Homo sapiens: one gene and its partner. Each later gene encodes a partner of the first gene's protein in a complex. Links are inferred from orthologs where the notes say so. Each region holds a gene or a part of one and is shown on either strand. Other genes may lie near its edges.

The links.
Region 2: the proteins of AP1G1 (region 1) and AP1M1 are in contact, whole or in part, in a cryo-EM structure (PDB 7R4H), measured with the Mus musculus proteins. The link is inferred for Homo sapiens from one-to-one orthologs. Residues at the interface, in NP_001288140.1 of Mus musculus: Arg24, Glu25, Gln28, Lys29, Ala32, Arg35, Ser36, Arg39, Glu40, His64, Phe65, Gln67, Leu68, Gln97, Val99; in NP_031482.1 of Mus musculus: Ser289, Asn318, Asp319, Ala320, Asp321, Ser322, Trp334, Pro336, Glu337, Asn338, Ser339, Gly361, Leu362, Pro363, Ser364, Val365, Glu366, Ala367, Glu368.

Annotation. Positions count from the first base shown.
Region 1 is NC_000016.10:71,805,830-71,813,157, reverse strand, and holds the start of AP1G1 (AP-1 complex subunit gamma-1), read left to right. Parts: upstream 1-4,323; 5' UTR 4,324-4,395; intron 4,396-7,328. UniProt on the Homo sapiens protein: Subunit of clathrin-associated adaptor protein complex 1 that plays a role in protein sorting in the late-Golgi/trans-Golgi network (TGN) and/or endosomes.
Region 2 is NC_000019.10:16,193,529-16,200,930, reverse strand, and holds the start of AP1M1 (AP-1 complex subunit mu-1), read right to left. Parts: upstream 3,021-7,402; 5' UTR 2,905-3,020; coding exon 2,863-2,904; intron 1-2,862. UniProt on the Homo sapiens protein: Subunit of clathrin-associated adaptor protein complex 1 that plays a role in protein sorting in the trans-Golgi network (TGN) and endosomes.

The DNA of each region.
Region 1 (7,328 bases):
TAACATTGTTTTATAATATTTCCTTTTAAAGTCTGCCATACTATAATAATAAGGTTTTCATTTTATTGGTAGCATAGTATTACCTTTTATAGATGTGCTGTAATTTATTTATCTGGAATTAGGGATTATGTTTGAGAAGATGGGGAGTAAGCCTTTCTAAACTTAAATCACTAGCCATGGAAACCAAAGATTCCAAGATAATGTGACTATGCTACATATTGGGGCAATTGCTTTTATTTATTTATTTTATTCATTTATTTAAAAGATGAGGAGGCCGGGCATGGTGGCTCATGCCTGTAATCTCAGCCCTTTGGGAGGCCGAGGCAGGTGGATCACCTGAAGCCAGGAGTTCGAGACCAGCCTGGCCAACATGGAGAAACCCTGTCTCTACTAAAATATACAAAATTAGCTGGGCGTGGTGGCGCATGCCTGTAATCCCAGCTACTCAGGAGGCTGAGGCAGGAGAATTGCTTGAACCCGGGAGGTGGAGGCTGCAGTGAGCCGAGATTGTGCCATTGCACTCCAGCCTGGGCAACAAGAGTGAAACTCCGTGAAAGAAAGAAAGAAAGAAAGAGGGGCGGGGAGGGGGGAGGAAGGGAGGAAGGAAGGAAGGAAGAAAGATAGGGTCTCACTATGTTACCTGGGCTGTTCTCAAACTCCTTGGATCAAGTGATCCTCCCACCTTGGCCCCCCGAAGTGCTAGGATTACAGGTGTGAGCCACTGTGCCCAGCTGGGGCAACTGCTTTTAATTTTAGTTGCATGGAAGAAGGGTTTGGTAATTATAAATAAAGATAAATGGCCTGGGCGCGGTGGCTCACGTCTGTAATCCCAGCACTTTGGGAGGCTGAGGCGGGCAGATCATAAGGTCAAGAGATCAAGACCAGCCTGGCCAACATGATGAAACCCCGTCTGTACTAAAAATACAAAAATTAGCCGGATGTAGTGGCACGTGCCTGTAGTCCCAGCTACTCGGGAGGCTGAGGCAGGAGAACCACTTGAACTCGGGAGGTGGAGGTTGCAGCAAGCTGAGATCATGCCACTGCACTCCGGCCTGGCGACAGAGACTCTGTCTCAAAAACAAAAACAAAATAAAGAGAAATGTAAGTTAAAAAGTACTGAGAAAGGGTTTAGTTTTTAATGTTTAAAACTCTTTAACGCTCTGCACTCGATATGGTAGGAAAAAAGATCTTTCCGGGGCCGGGAGCGGTGGCTCACGCCTGTAATCCCAGTACTTTGGGAGGCCAAGGCGGGCGGATCACGAGGTCAGGAGATCAAGACCATCCTGGCTAACATGTGAAACCTCGTCTCTACTAAAAACACAAAAAACTAGCCAGGTGTGGTGGCGGGCGCCTGTAGTCCCAGCTGCTCTGGAGGCTGAGGCAGCAGAATGGCGTGAACTCAGGAGGCGGAGTTTGCAGTGAGTTGAGATCGTGCCACTGCACTCCAGCCTGGGGACAGAGTGAGACTCCGTCTCAAAAAAAAAAAAAGCTCTCTCCTCCTTAGGTAGCTGGCTTAATTTTTCTTTTGTGGTTCACAATGATACACATTTAAATTTGACCTCTAAGCATTTTTTTGTGGTGTTCCAAACGGAATACTTTAGCTAACTCTGCTTTGCAACCTGCAAACTTCTTACTTATGTGGAAACCCCAAACTAAGTTTGGCCTGTGTTCCCTGCATAGCTATACCTCAGAGGAAATTGTGTTTTGGCTTCATTCCACTATTTACTAGCCTTGTAGTCCATGGTTGCACTGTACAGTAGCAGCATGGCAGAGGATCTGAATTCTGTAAACATTCTGTTCTCTAAACCACTTGTTGGGGGTTGACTCCATCCACCCTGAGAGTGTAGGTATGTGTGTAGGTAGGTAGGTAGGTAGGTGGGTGGGTAGGTAGGGGTGGTGGAAGATTGTGGTACCCTATGCTAATTTATAAAATGGCACTCTGGCCTGGCATGGTGGCTCATGCCTGTAATCCCAGCACTTTGGGAGGCCGAGGTGGGTGAATCACCTGAGGTCAGGAGTTCGAGACCAGCTTGGGTAACATGGTGAAACCCCGTTTCTACTAAAAATACAAAAAATTAGCTGGGCGTGGTGGCATGCGCCTGTAGTCCCAGCTACTTGGGAGACTGAGGCAGGACAATCACTTGAACCTGGGAGGCGGAGGCTGCAGTGAGCCAAGATCACGCCATTGCACTCCAGCTCGGGCAACAAGAGTGAAACTCTGTCTCAAAAAAAAAGGCACTCTATAGCTCTGTAGCAGAACCCCAGTGGAGGAGGGGAGAGGATGTGTCTTTTAGCCAAGTTAGTTTCTTGGAGCCTCTTTTTCCTTATTTGTAAAACTAAGTTACTTATGCTTGCCTAGCCTGACTCAGGAGGTTGTCCAGAGGGTCAGATTAGATTATACACATGAAAGTGCCTTATGAACAATGTGATATCAATATTTAATAATACAAATGATAATTATTATCGCACCCATGGCCTCCTTTCTTTCCAGCCACTTGGCATGCCCCAGTAGTTCAGGGACAAAATTGTACAGATGGGCCTACTTGGTTCAATTTTTTTTTGTTTTTGTGAGACAGGGTCTCACTCTGTCGCCCAGACTCGGCTATCTGCAACCTCTGCCTCCCAGGTTCAAGCGATTCTCCTGTCTCAGCCTTCCGAGTAGCTGGGATTACAGGTGCCCACCACCATGCCCGGCTAATTTTGTATTTTTAGTGGAGATGGAGTTTCACCATGTTGGCCAGTCTGGTCTCGAACTCCTGACCTCAGGTGATCCGCCCACCCCGGCCTCCTAAAGTACTGGGATTACATGCGTCAGCCACTGTGCCCGGCCTACTTAGAGCAATTTTTGTTAAGTGTTTTGAAATCCCTGCATGAAAATGACTAAGGAAAAAAGTGCAACCTTCTCTCTATGACACCCAAATCCTAAACTCAAGATTTGTGGTTAGTTCTGGCCAGGCCGGTGGCTCACACCTGTCATCTCCACACTTTGGGAGGCCGACGCAGGCAGATCACCTGAGGTCAGGAGTTCAAGACCAGCCTGGCCAACATGGCGAAACCCTCTCTCTACTAAAAATGCAAATATTAGACGGCCGTGGTGGCGGGAGCCTGTAATCCCAGCTACTTGCGAGGCTGAAGCACGAGAAATTGCTTGACCCCGGGAGGCAAGGTTGTAGTGAGCCGGGATCCCGCCACTGCACTCCAGCCTGGGCAACAGAGCGAGACTTTGTCTCAAAAAAAAAAAAAAAATTTTTTTTGTGTGGTTGGTTCTGTTCTCTTTGGCACCCAGCCTGCTGCTGTGTTGTATTGTACTTTGTTGCCAATCTAGCAGAAGGATTTTAGTCTAGGTAGGTCACCTTTCCTTTAAACAGGCCAAGATATCAGGCCCTCTTTACATTCACATGGAAAAGACTCACGTCATATGTTAGTAATTATTTATCAGGTTAGGAACTGTCTGGTTAGACTTTCTTTGGCCCTGGTTATTAATTCATGGAGTCATAGACCGAAAGCCCATTCTGTAAGGGTTTCAGCTAACATGAGTCCAAGTCTTCTTTCTACATATGAGGAAATTGAATCCCTGGAGAGTTTAAGTGACTTGAGCAGTGCAAGCACCGCGGTACCGGGCGTGGAATCCATTCTTTTCAGTCATCCTCTTAACTCTTCATAAAATATGTTGCAAAGACACCATAAAACCATAGAATACCACCTGGAGCATGCTCCTTAAGTTATAAAGAAAGCAAAAATCTTAAAGGAGACAGCAAAGAGTTCGGGATTCCCGTGGACGAAGACCTTTTCAGCCCTGCTGTCTTCTCCGCCCCCACCTGTCTCGCTTGCTCTCACTTCCTGGGCTACCTGACTTAGCTCCGCCCCCTCCAGGTGGCTCCACCGCTTCCTGGTAGCCCAGCTCCACCCCCCCTACCCCCCCACCCCCCTACCCCCCACCCCCCTACCCCCTCACCAAGCGGAACCAATGTCCGTCCGCTACGGGGTAGGCCGGATCTTTCTCGCTCAGACTCATCGCAGCGGTGACTCGGCAGCAGCGTCTCGCGTCATCAGTGACAGCCCCGATCCTTGCTACGTTTGCGTCGCTCTGCCAGGAGCAGTCGCCTCCTCCTTGGCAAATAGTCCTCGGCAGGGTCCGAGTTCTTGGATAATTCGAGAGAAAAGGCACGATAAGTTGCAGTACGAGGACACGGAAACGACCAGGAGAGGAGGACAGGGAGCGAAGTTTCCTCAATAGTGTGTGAAGTTAGTTAAAAACTCCCTCCTTCCTCAGGATCCCTCCGCCTGCGGTAGCGGTGGTGAGGCCGAGGGAGCCGCCATTTTGGATGTTCGGTTCCTGCTGCCACTGCTGCCGCCGCCCCCGGAGCTGCTGGTTTCATTCGAGGTTTCGGGCCGGTGAGTGTCACTCCCGGCGCTGAGAGCATATTGCTGCTTTTGCCCCGCCGCTGCCGCGGGCGCTCGACCGGAAGCTTCCTTTCAGTTTCAGGGGTCCAGTCCCAGGCTGTGGGTGTTGAGAAGAGAAGACAGAGAAGCTGGGCCAGGAGAGGCCGGGAGCCCCAGGGGCTGCTCCGACTTCTGGAGGGCCGACCCCGAGGCCTCGGACCGGGAGGTTCCGCGCGCCGCGGCGTTCCGTGTTGTGGCGTTGCCCCGCCGGTACGGGCCTCCTTGAACCCTTGACTTTCTCAGGCTGCGATCTTTGAGGGCTCATTCAGGGAGCCTGGGGTTTAGCGGGGCGGGCCCCACCCCCGCGTGTCTTCTCTGAGCCACGTATCAGCGTTCTTGTGTCTTGTACCCGTGTCAGGTCTGTCAGATAACTCCCAGCATATCCAAATGCCCAGTTAATCGCTGCCTGCCCCTGCAGTGCCGTCCTCTCGGAACCGGACATCGGCCTCGCCTCTCTCTAACCTTCCGACCAACTTCTTTCCCAATTTTTCGTGTGTGTGTGTATATGTTGTTGTTTTGTTTTTTTCAACCTACCTGCGAGTATACTGTTTACCCTTTTCTCAGCTCCTGGCCCTGCGGACGTCAGCGTCTAATAATTCTCCCGGTCTTCCTGATTGCCTGAAAGAGTCGGGACGGTTCGGTTGATTGTGTTTCCCGGTTAGGACTCGGTGTAGGAGATCCATCGAACCACTCGCTCAGGGTAATGTTTATGAAGCAGATTATGTTTATGAAGCAGATTAAATGGCTTTTGGGAGGCAAGAGCTGTCAAATGTTTTCTCATATGTGGATTCCCTCCCTGTGCTGAATACTTAGCTTTTTGGTGCTTACTGACACTTGTGTGGTATTTTTTTTTCTCCCCTATTATATATCCCTGAGCACGGAAATCTGTCCATGGAGAAAAATATTAATCTGAGGTAGGTAGAAAGGAGAGTTGGGCTGCTTTACAGTGATTAGTTAACAGAAGGGAGGAGTTAGTGCTTTCTTAGTGACCTTAACTTTGAAGTGTTTGTACAGTAATGATCTTTGCTGACTGATTCTAAAAAATACTTGTAATGATTTCATGTATTGGGTTTTTCTGGGGATAGCTGAATTTTAAATATTCACTTCCACCGTTCCCTAGAATACTTGTCAAATACCTAACTTGTCACACACCCTAACTTTCACGTTTGAAAAATATGAACCCTCTAAGTACTCGTAATCTCGTCACTTTTATTCTAAAGGCATGTTTGCAGTCTAGCATGCTTGAATAAAAAGTATGTCTTTATTTTTATTTATTTATTTTTTGAGACGAAGTCTCCCTCTGTCTCCAGGCTGGAGTGCAGTGGCACGGTCTCGGCTCACTGCAACCTACGCCTCCCGGGTTCAAGCAGTTCTCCTGCCTCAGCCTCCCAAGTAGCTGGGACTACAGGCACACGCCGCCACGCCCGGCTAATTTTTTGTTGTTGTATTTTAGTAGAGATGGGGTTTCATCATGTTGCCCAGGCAGATCTCGAACTCCTGAGCTCAGGTAATCCGCCCGCCTCGGCCTCCCAAAGTGCTAGGATTACAGGCGTGAGCCACCGTGCCTGGCAAAAAGTATTTCACAGTTATTCACTGATACATTTCCTACGTTTCAAGTTAGGCGAGTGTGATTGAATCACCCTTATTTCATCTCAGCCTGGGTTTTCACATCTGCAAAAGAGAAATTAACTTATTTGAGATCACAGTCTAGTGGTTGAAGTTTAAATTTATAACTTGAATTGAGTCAAGCTTTTTAATATTGCTAAGCCACTTATAGATGCATTATTATTATCAGGTTATTGAAATGAGATTGTAGATAAATTCCTCTATAGGTCATATGATGTCTCAGAAGAAAACAATATTTTCAGTTTAAATACTCAGTGATCTTGTTATTTAAGCAGATTTTTCAAAAATATATTAGTTACTATTAGATACGTGAGTTCTGTATTACCCTGAAGCAATGGAATTTTCTCTTTTGGTTTAAAGGAACTGTCAAACACTGAACACCTATGTAATGCTCACTCATTTAGTAAGTATGCCCTCGCAGTTACTACTGAAATGTTCCATTTCTGACTTAGACTTTTCAAGTAAGGTGTTAGAAGAGCTATCACATAGATGTTAGTTAACTCAGTGTTTTTCATGCTTTAATATATTGGTATTTAAATGTCATTCAGGCGGGCGCTCAGTGGCTCATGCTTGTAATCCCAACACTTTGGGAGGTGGAAGGTGGATCCCTTGAGCCCAGGAGTTGGAGGCCAGCCTGGGCAACCTAATGAGACTCCGTCTCTACCAAAATATTTAAAAATATTAAACTTTTAAAAATTCATTCTTAGATAGTTTGCATTCACTGTAGAAAGGGTCCTTTTGCCTTAACAAATTCCTAGCAAAGTGTTGTTTAGTGCACCATTGATCAGTGCATATTTGAATGTCTGCTTTGCGTTTAGGAAACCTCCGTTTTCTTTTGGGGGCAGTTGCTTGTTCTTTGGTCTGACCTCTGTCATTGATAGCAGTTCTAGATTTGAGGGCAGATTTTAGAGTGAAACTTTAAAGTACAGAATTTGCCAGGAATGCCTTGGTGATATTTCACCCCAGTGTTTATTTAAAAAAGGAGTTTTAAAAATCAGTGGTATGCAAACAAAACCAACTTCTTTATGATTTATAAAAACTCTTTTTTTTTTTTTTTATTATTTTTATTGTTTGAGACAGGGTCTCACTCTGTTGCCCAGGCTGGAGTGCAGTGGTCTCAGCTCACTGCAGCCTGGACCTCCTGGACTCAAGCGATCCTCCTGCCTCAGCCCTCCACGTAGCTGGGACTACAGGCGTGTGCTACCACGCAGGGCTAATTTTTGTATTTTTTGTATAGATAGTGTTTTGTCATGTTGCCC
Region 2 (7,402 bases), on another chromosome or scaffold:
AAGCCCACCTGGGAAGAGTGACAGCATGGGGAGGCACGCGTAGGCCTGAGCCGCTCCACAGCCCTGGGGAGGGCAGAAAAGGAGGAAAGTAGGCAGTGCAAGAAACAGGAGGAAACCCCCCAGAGCGCAGCCTCCTGGAAGCGGAAGGGAGCACTGAAGAGGAGGTGGTTAGTGGTGTCAGAAGCTGCTGAGAAGCCAGTTAGATAAAGCGGAGAAGCTTCCTACTAGGACAGCTTCCTCCCAGCCCAGTGTGGCCACGCTGGTGTCCTCGGTGACCAGACACGTGGCCATGAATTTCTCAGTGTGCTTTATTGTTGATTAAATGCAGTCGGCTCACGAGGCTGACTTTGGAAACAGGAGGTCCGTGGGTCGTGGAATAAGAAAGGGCATCATGGTTGCAGAGGAAGGGAAGGAAGCCCACGGCTGCCTTGGGGAGCTTTCTGAAAGGCAGGTCTGATCATGCCTCTCTGGGCTACGGTCTCCTCACGGTGGCTCCTGGTTGGAACTGAAGTGGTCCCCTTGGTCCCTCTCTCCCATCTCAGCATTAGCCAGGACTTCTGGCTTGGCAGCCCCAGCAGGCTGCCCCTTGCAACACCTCTTTTCCACATGATCGTGCCTTCCAAACCTACTTCCAGCGTCGCCCTCTTCAGGGAGCCTTTCATAACCACCTCCCCCTTCCACTGGCTAAAGATGAGGTTGAGCAACTGCAGGACTTGGGACCTTGTTCCTGCCCCTGTGGCTGCCTGGATCCAACTGTGTGGTAATGTCTCTGCTTCTAGGTGACTCCCCTGCTAGACCGAGAGGCCTGGGAGAGCTAACATGGACCATGGGTGGTGCTGAGCCTGTCTCATGCATCTGCTCAGCAAATCTGCACAATAACTCCATAAAAGCCTCTTTTGACCAGTGAGGAAAGTGAGGCTCAGACAGGAGAAGGTGCCTGTCCCAGGTCACACAGCTGAGCAGCAGGGATGGGTTTTGAGCTCACCCCTAACACCACAGCCATGGCGCCAATGGACACCCTATGCCCGGCATAGGGCAGGGTGCATGCTAGGTGCTCATGAAATGTTTGCTGAAGGAATAAGCAAGCCAAGACAGGCAGCCCACTGGCACCTCTGGGGAGGCAGTGGCCAGGGTGGAAGCAAGACTCATTCCACCAGGACTCATTCCACCGCACCACCCAGCCCCTGGCGTGCTCTAAGACGGGTGTCTTCCCTCCTTCCAAGAAGGCGGGGGAGGGAAGCCCAGCACTGGGTCTCACCAGTTGTTGACTTTGGGTGGCTTCCAGAGCAGGCACCCACTCAAGGGACTTCAGGAAAGTGCTGGGGGTGGGGTGGGGCGGGAAGGGGCAGCCATTTCACCTCTTCACTCTCAGCTGCTTTAGGGCTCACCCCTGCCCGCCTCACCTAGGACCTGACACCCATGTTTGTTTCTCTCACTGATCAATGTTGGGCTTCACATTGTTGGACCGGTTCTTGTTGCTTCCACATGCAACAGGCCAGGCAGCCACCTGCCTTGCACCTGGGATGGACTTAGGAGAAGGCAGAGGACCATTTCTAAAAGGTGGGGACAATCCCTTCTTAAAGTTTTCTCAGATCCTCTGGGGAAGATGCCTGGGTTCTAGTTTATGTCCAGCTCCCTGGTGTCTCTGGTCCATTTGTCACCCCTCCTCAGGGAAACCCTCTCTCATCCTCGGGCTGAGGCTGACTGTCTGTATAACACACTCGCCCCTCAACACCACTGCAATTGACATTTATTTGTGTTTTTGGAGATGGGTATCCATCTCCCCTACCAGCCTGTGAACACCGTAAGAACACAGATTGTTGAGCCCTGGCACATGACTCACACCTGTAATCCCAGCACTTTGGGAGGCTAAGACAGGTGGATCACTCGAGGTCAAGAGTTCGAGACCAGCCTGGTCAACATGGTGAAACCCTGCCTCTACTAAAAATACAAAATTTAGCTCGGCGTAGTGGCAGGTGCCTGTAATCCCAGCTACTTGGGAGGCTGAGGCAGGAAAATTGCTTGAACCCGGGAGGCGGAGGTTGCAGTGAGTGGAGATTGCACCACTACACTCCAGACTGGACGACTGAGCATGACACTATCTCAAAAACAAAACAAAAAAAAAGGGACTGTTTTTTGCTAAACACAAATCGACCCCAGGCTTAGTACCCTGCCCGGCATTAGTAGGTGCTCCCCAGATATCAGCTGAATAAACGAATGATTCTGGATCGGACTCCTAGACTTGCTACTTCTCTGTGACCATTGTGACCTTGGTCAGGTTGCTTCACCTCTCCATGCCTCAGTTTCTCCCTCTATAAAACGGCACTCGTGATCACCACTCACCTCACCTAATCCTTGTAACTCACTATCACAATGAACGTGGAGAAATTCCTACTGAGAGAAAGTGCACGATAAACAGAAGCTGTAACGCCCTGAGAAGGCGGGACTGGCTCGAGAGCACCCAGTCCCCGCCACGCCTCGCCACCCCCGGCCAAGGGTCGCGCAGCCCCTGGACGCCCTGCCTGGCTCCGAGGCCGGCTGCGGCCCCGCTTCTGGGTCCTCCACCGAGGCCCGAGCCCCCGGCCCCGGCGCCGGGGAGCAGAGGGCGGTGCAGTCAGTTACCTGGCAACGCGGTGGCTGCAGCCCACCGCGTTACGTAGCAACAGGGCGGGGATTACCCACTTAAGACCCCCGCCCGGTTACCCAGAAACAGGATGGGGCTCTCAGGTGAGGTCTACCGGCCTCTCTGCCTCACACCAGGATGGGGCTCATAAGCCGGTTACCTAGCAACAGGGTGGGTCCCCGCGGGCGGAGGCCCCTGCCGGTTGCCTGGCAACAGGGAGGGTGGGGAGCCCTCAGTACCTTGCCCTTCAGGTCCAGCACGTAGACGGCGCTGGCGGACATGATGGCTGCAGGAGGCCTCGGCAGCGGCCGAGGGCGGTGGCGGCGGCAGCGACGGTGGGGACTGCTGGGCGTTGAGCAAGGCCGGGCGCCGCCCGCGACAGCTCACCTCCACTTCCGGTTCGGGGAGCCGCGCGGGGACCGTTATGTCCGGTCCGGGAGGTGCTGTCAGGAATGCGCAGGCGCAGGACGGACTGTGCGCAGGCGCATTACGTCGTATGTAACCATGTTTCTTGCTCCCGCCAGAAGCATCCCGGAAGTAAGGCCCGGTGGGGCGGGGCCGACCAAATCAGGGCACCCAGTGGCCGCTGCCAGGCTGAGCTATGGAGCCAGAGCAGCTGGAAACGGCCTCCCGTGGGCCGAGTTAGGCGAGAGAGCCTGGTGGTGAAACCGACCTGGGGCCCAGCCCTATGGAGCTCACAGTCTGGTGGGGAAGTCTATGAAACAAGTGTACAGTCACCAATTGTGATAAGCTCAAAAGAGAGAGGTAAGGTCGTGGTTACTTGGAAAGAGGTCAAACAAACTTTCTGAATGGCAATCAAACCTTATCAACAGTCACCACCTGTCATTGTCAACATTTATCAATGAATGAGTGTGCCTGTTTATTGCCTGGAATGTTATGAAAACCAGCCTCACTGAACCTTGACCCAACATACCGTGTTTCATTTCTGCAAAGTTAGTAATCAGTAATGCAACTGGTGGCCCTTGATTAATCCATTGAGTCATATTTAATTTGCTTTTATGAACTCTTGGGCTTTGGAGAAATGCCTGCATTCTGTTCCAGTTAGCCATCATAGTACCCTGGGGATCCCAACCCTGCAATACCAGAGTGATTTACCCAGGATGCCTGCCTCTCACATCTTTTATTTTCTGTCTTATCTCCGTTTTGGCGTTTGGAAAGATGATTTTTGCAACTCGGTAATTATATAGTGTTTTGCTTAGGAAAGAAATGTGACCGAAACTCTAGAGAAGCAAACTAGAATGTTTGAAGACTGCTAAGTGACTCCTGGGCTGGAAGGATTCTTGCTCAAGGCACAGAGCAAGCAGCCAAGAGAGGGTTTTTGTTGTTTGCTTTTTTTTTTTTTTTTTTTTTTGAGATGGAGTCTCACTCTGTCACCCAGGCTGGAGTGCAATGGCATGATCTCGGCTCACTGCAACCTCTGCCTCCTGGGTTCAAGTGATTCTCTTGTGTGTCAGCCTCTCAAGTGGCTGGGATTACAGGCATGTGCCACCACACCTAGCTAATTTTTGTATTTTTAGTAGAGACGTGGTTTCACCATGTTGGCCAGGCTTGTCTCAAACTCCTGACCTCACGTGATCCACCCACCTCGGCCTCCCAAAGTGCTGGGATTACAAGGGTTAAGTTAAATATTAAAAGATAAGAGAGCCAGTGCCCTTATACAAAGGCTGGGATGTAACAAAAGCCCACCCAGAGTTGTGCCTAGGCCTTTCCTGGGCCTTGAAGCATGACAAGATAATGAAGGAATTCTTAACAGGACCCTTTTAGGATTAAACAAGCTTTATTGGCGGTCTGAAGAAACTCCTCAGGCCTCCACAAACAAGTTTATTGGGGTTTGAAGGAACTCCCCCAAACCTCCATGATTTAGCAGGAGATAAGATAAGGGTAATCACCCCAGCACCTGGACCCACTTAGATTAAGTAAATTTACTGAGGCTCCAGAGGAAGGTCTTCAGGACTCAGATCTTAGTTATGGGTTAAAAGACTATAACTTACTTACGTCTTTAGATGAATGCACACCTACACGTAGACATATAGCTTAGAAGGTATATGAGCTCTGGAAGACTTTGTAATTTTGGGTTGGTCTGGTGATATTTTCCAGGCCTTCTCCCTGTAACCAGTTACAGAAATAAAAACTCTCTTCCTCCCTAGTTCATCTGTGTCTCATTATTGGGCTGTGAGATATAGAAGCCCAACCCTCAGTTTGGTCTGGGAATAGGTTAGGAGTGGGGGTCTCAAAAGCCCCCCCAATACAACACACACAATAAGAACCACTGAGGCCTGAAAGCCATGTATAGAGATTTTGTTTTAATTGGTCTGGGCCAGGGTTTGGTTATTGGGATTTTTCTTTTTTTTAATTTTTTTTTTGAGACAGAGTCTCACTCTGTCACCAGGCTGGCATGCAGTGACACGATCTCGGCTCACTGCAACCTCTGCCTTCCAGGTTCAAGTGATTCTCCTGCCTCAGCCTCCCAAGTAGCTGGAACTATAGGTGCCTGCCACCATGCCCAGCTAATTTTTGTATTTTTAGTAGAGACGGGGTTTCACCATGTTGGCTAGGATGGTCTTGATCTCTTGACCTTGTGATCCGCCCGCCCCACCTCCCAAAGTGCTGGGATTACAGGTGTGAGTCACCGCGCCTGGCCTTCTTTTCCTTTCTTTTTTTTTTTTTTTGAGGCACGGTCTTATCCTGTCACCAGGCTGGAGTGCACTGGTGCAATCTCGGCTCACTGCAACCTTCACCTCCTTGGCTCAGCTGGGACTACAGATGCACACCATCAAGGCCAGCTAATTCTGGTTTTTTGTTTTTTTTTTTGAAACAGGGTCTCGCTCTGTCACCCAGGCCGGAGTGCAGTGGTGCAATCTCAGCAGCTCATTGCAACTTCTGCCTCCTGGGTTCAAGCGATCCTCCAACCTTAGCCTCCTGAGTAGCTGGGACTACAGATGTGTGCCACCAGGCCCAGATCAGTTTTTGTATTTTTAGTAAAGATGGGGTTTCACTATGTTGGCCAGGCTTAATTTTGCGATTTTTGTACAGATGGGGTTTCCCCATGTTGCCCAGGCTGGTCTCAAACACCTCGGCTCAAGTGATCTGCTCGCCTTGGCCTCCCAAAGTGCTGGGATTAAAGGCATGAGCCACTGCGCCCAGCCTGGTTATTGGGATTTTTTTCCAAGCTCCCCAGATGATGCTAATAGGAAACAAAATTTGAGAAACCCTGGTGTATCATAATAGGTATGATCTTTCTTTCTTTTTTTATTTTATCTTTTTGAGACTGAGTCTCAAATAAAAAAAAAAAAAAAGTTGCTTGGTTCTATGGCTCATGCCTGTAATCCCAGCACTTTGGGAGACAGAGACAGGAGGATCACTTGAGCCCAGGAGTTTCAGACTAGCCTGGGGAACATGATGAAACCCCATCTCTACAAAAAATACAAAAATTAGCTGAGTGTGGTGGCACACACTTGTAGTCCCAGCTACTTGGGAGGCTGAAACAGAAGAATCACTTGAACCTGGGAGGTTGACAAGGCTGCAGTGAGCTATAGTGGCATCACTGTACTCCAGCCTGGGCAACAGAGTAAGATCTCTAAAACATTACAATAAATGGGGCAAAATATGAGACTAGGTCCAACAGGGTTTGTTACATATCGCGTCTATTTCTGTTAACTCTTGGTGAACAGACCCTGATGTTCTTCCTGAGCAGTGGGAAGTCACAGCTGTGGCCGGGCTTGGTGGCTGACACCCACAATCCCAACACTTTGGGAGGCCGAGGCAGGAGGATCACTTGAGGTTGAGGCCAGTAGTTTGAGACCTGGGCAACATAGGGAGACCCTATCTCTACAAAGAGATAAATAAATCAGCTGGGTATGGTGATGTACACTTGTGATCCCAGCTACTCAGGAGGTCGAGGTGGGAGGATCACTTCAGCCTGGGAGGTCAAAGCTGCAGTGAGCCGTGATCACACCACTGCACTCCAGCCTGGGCAAGAGAATGAGACCCCATCTCAAAATAATAATAATGGTAATAATAATAGTCCTGACATCTCATCGGATTCCTTCTAGAGCTTAATCACTGGGCAATTAGTATCAAAAGCCTCTCTTGGCTGGGCATGGTGGTTCACGCCTGTAATCGCAGCACTTTGGGAGGCCGAGGCAGGTGGATCACCTGAGGTCAGGAGAGTTTGAGACCAGCCTGGCCAACATACCGAAACCCTGTCTCTACTAGAAATACAAAAATTAGCCGGGCACGGTGGTGCATGCCTGGAATCCCAGCTACTCCAGAGGCTGAGAGGCAGGAGAATTGCTTGAACCCGGGAGGCAGAGTTGCAGTGAGCCGAGATCGCACCAATGCACTCCAGCCTGGGCAATGAGCGAAATGCCATCTCCAAAAAAAAAAAAAAAATTAACCACTTAGTCAGTACTTAAACAGTCATTATGAAGGCCGGAGGCCTGCATTAGTGAGACCTGGCCTGCCACAACACTCCCTACACACAATAAGAATCTCTGTTCTCCAGGCTCGCTTTGAACTCCTGGGCTCAGGCAACCCTCCAGCCTCAGCCTCCTGAGCAGCTGGGATTACATTTGCATACGTCGCACTGTGCCTGGCACCAGAACTTGGCGGTTTTTAATGCTCCCCAGGTGATTCTAATGTAAATTTGAGGACAGCGGTGGTGGACTGTAAGGGTATTGGATCCCAGTAAACCACACCTCCTAGTGTTCATGCCCTTGTGGAGTTCCCTGCCAGACTCCGGGTTTGGCTAGGTGGCTT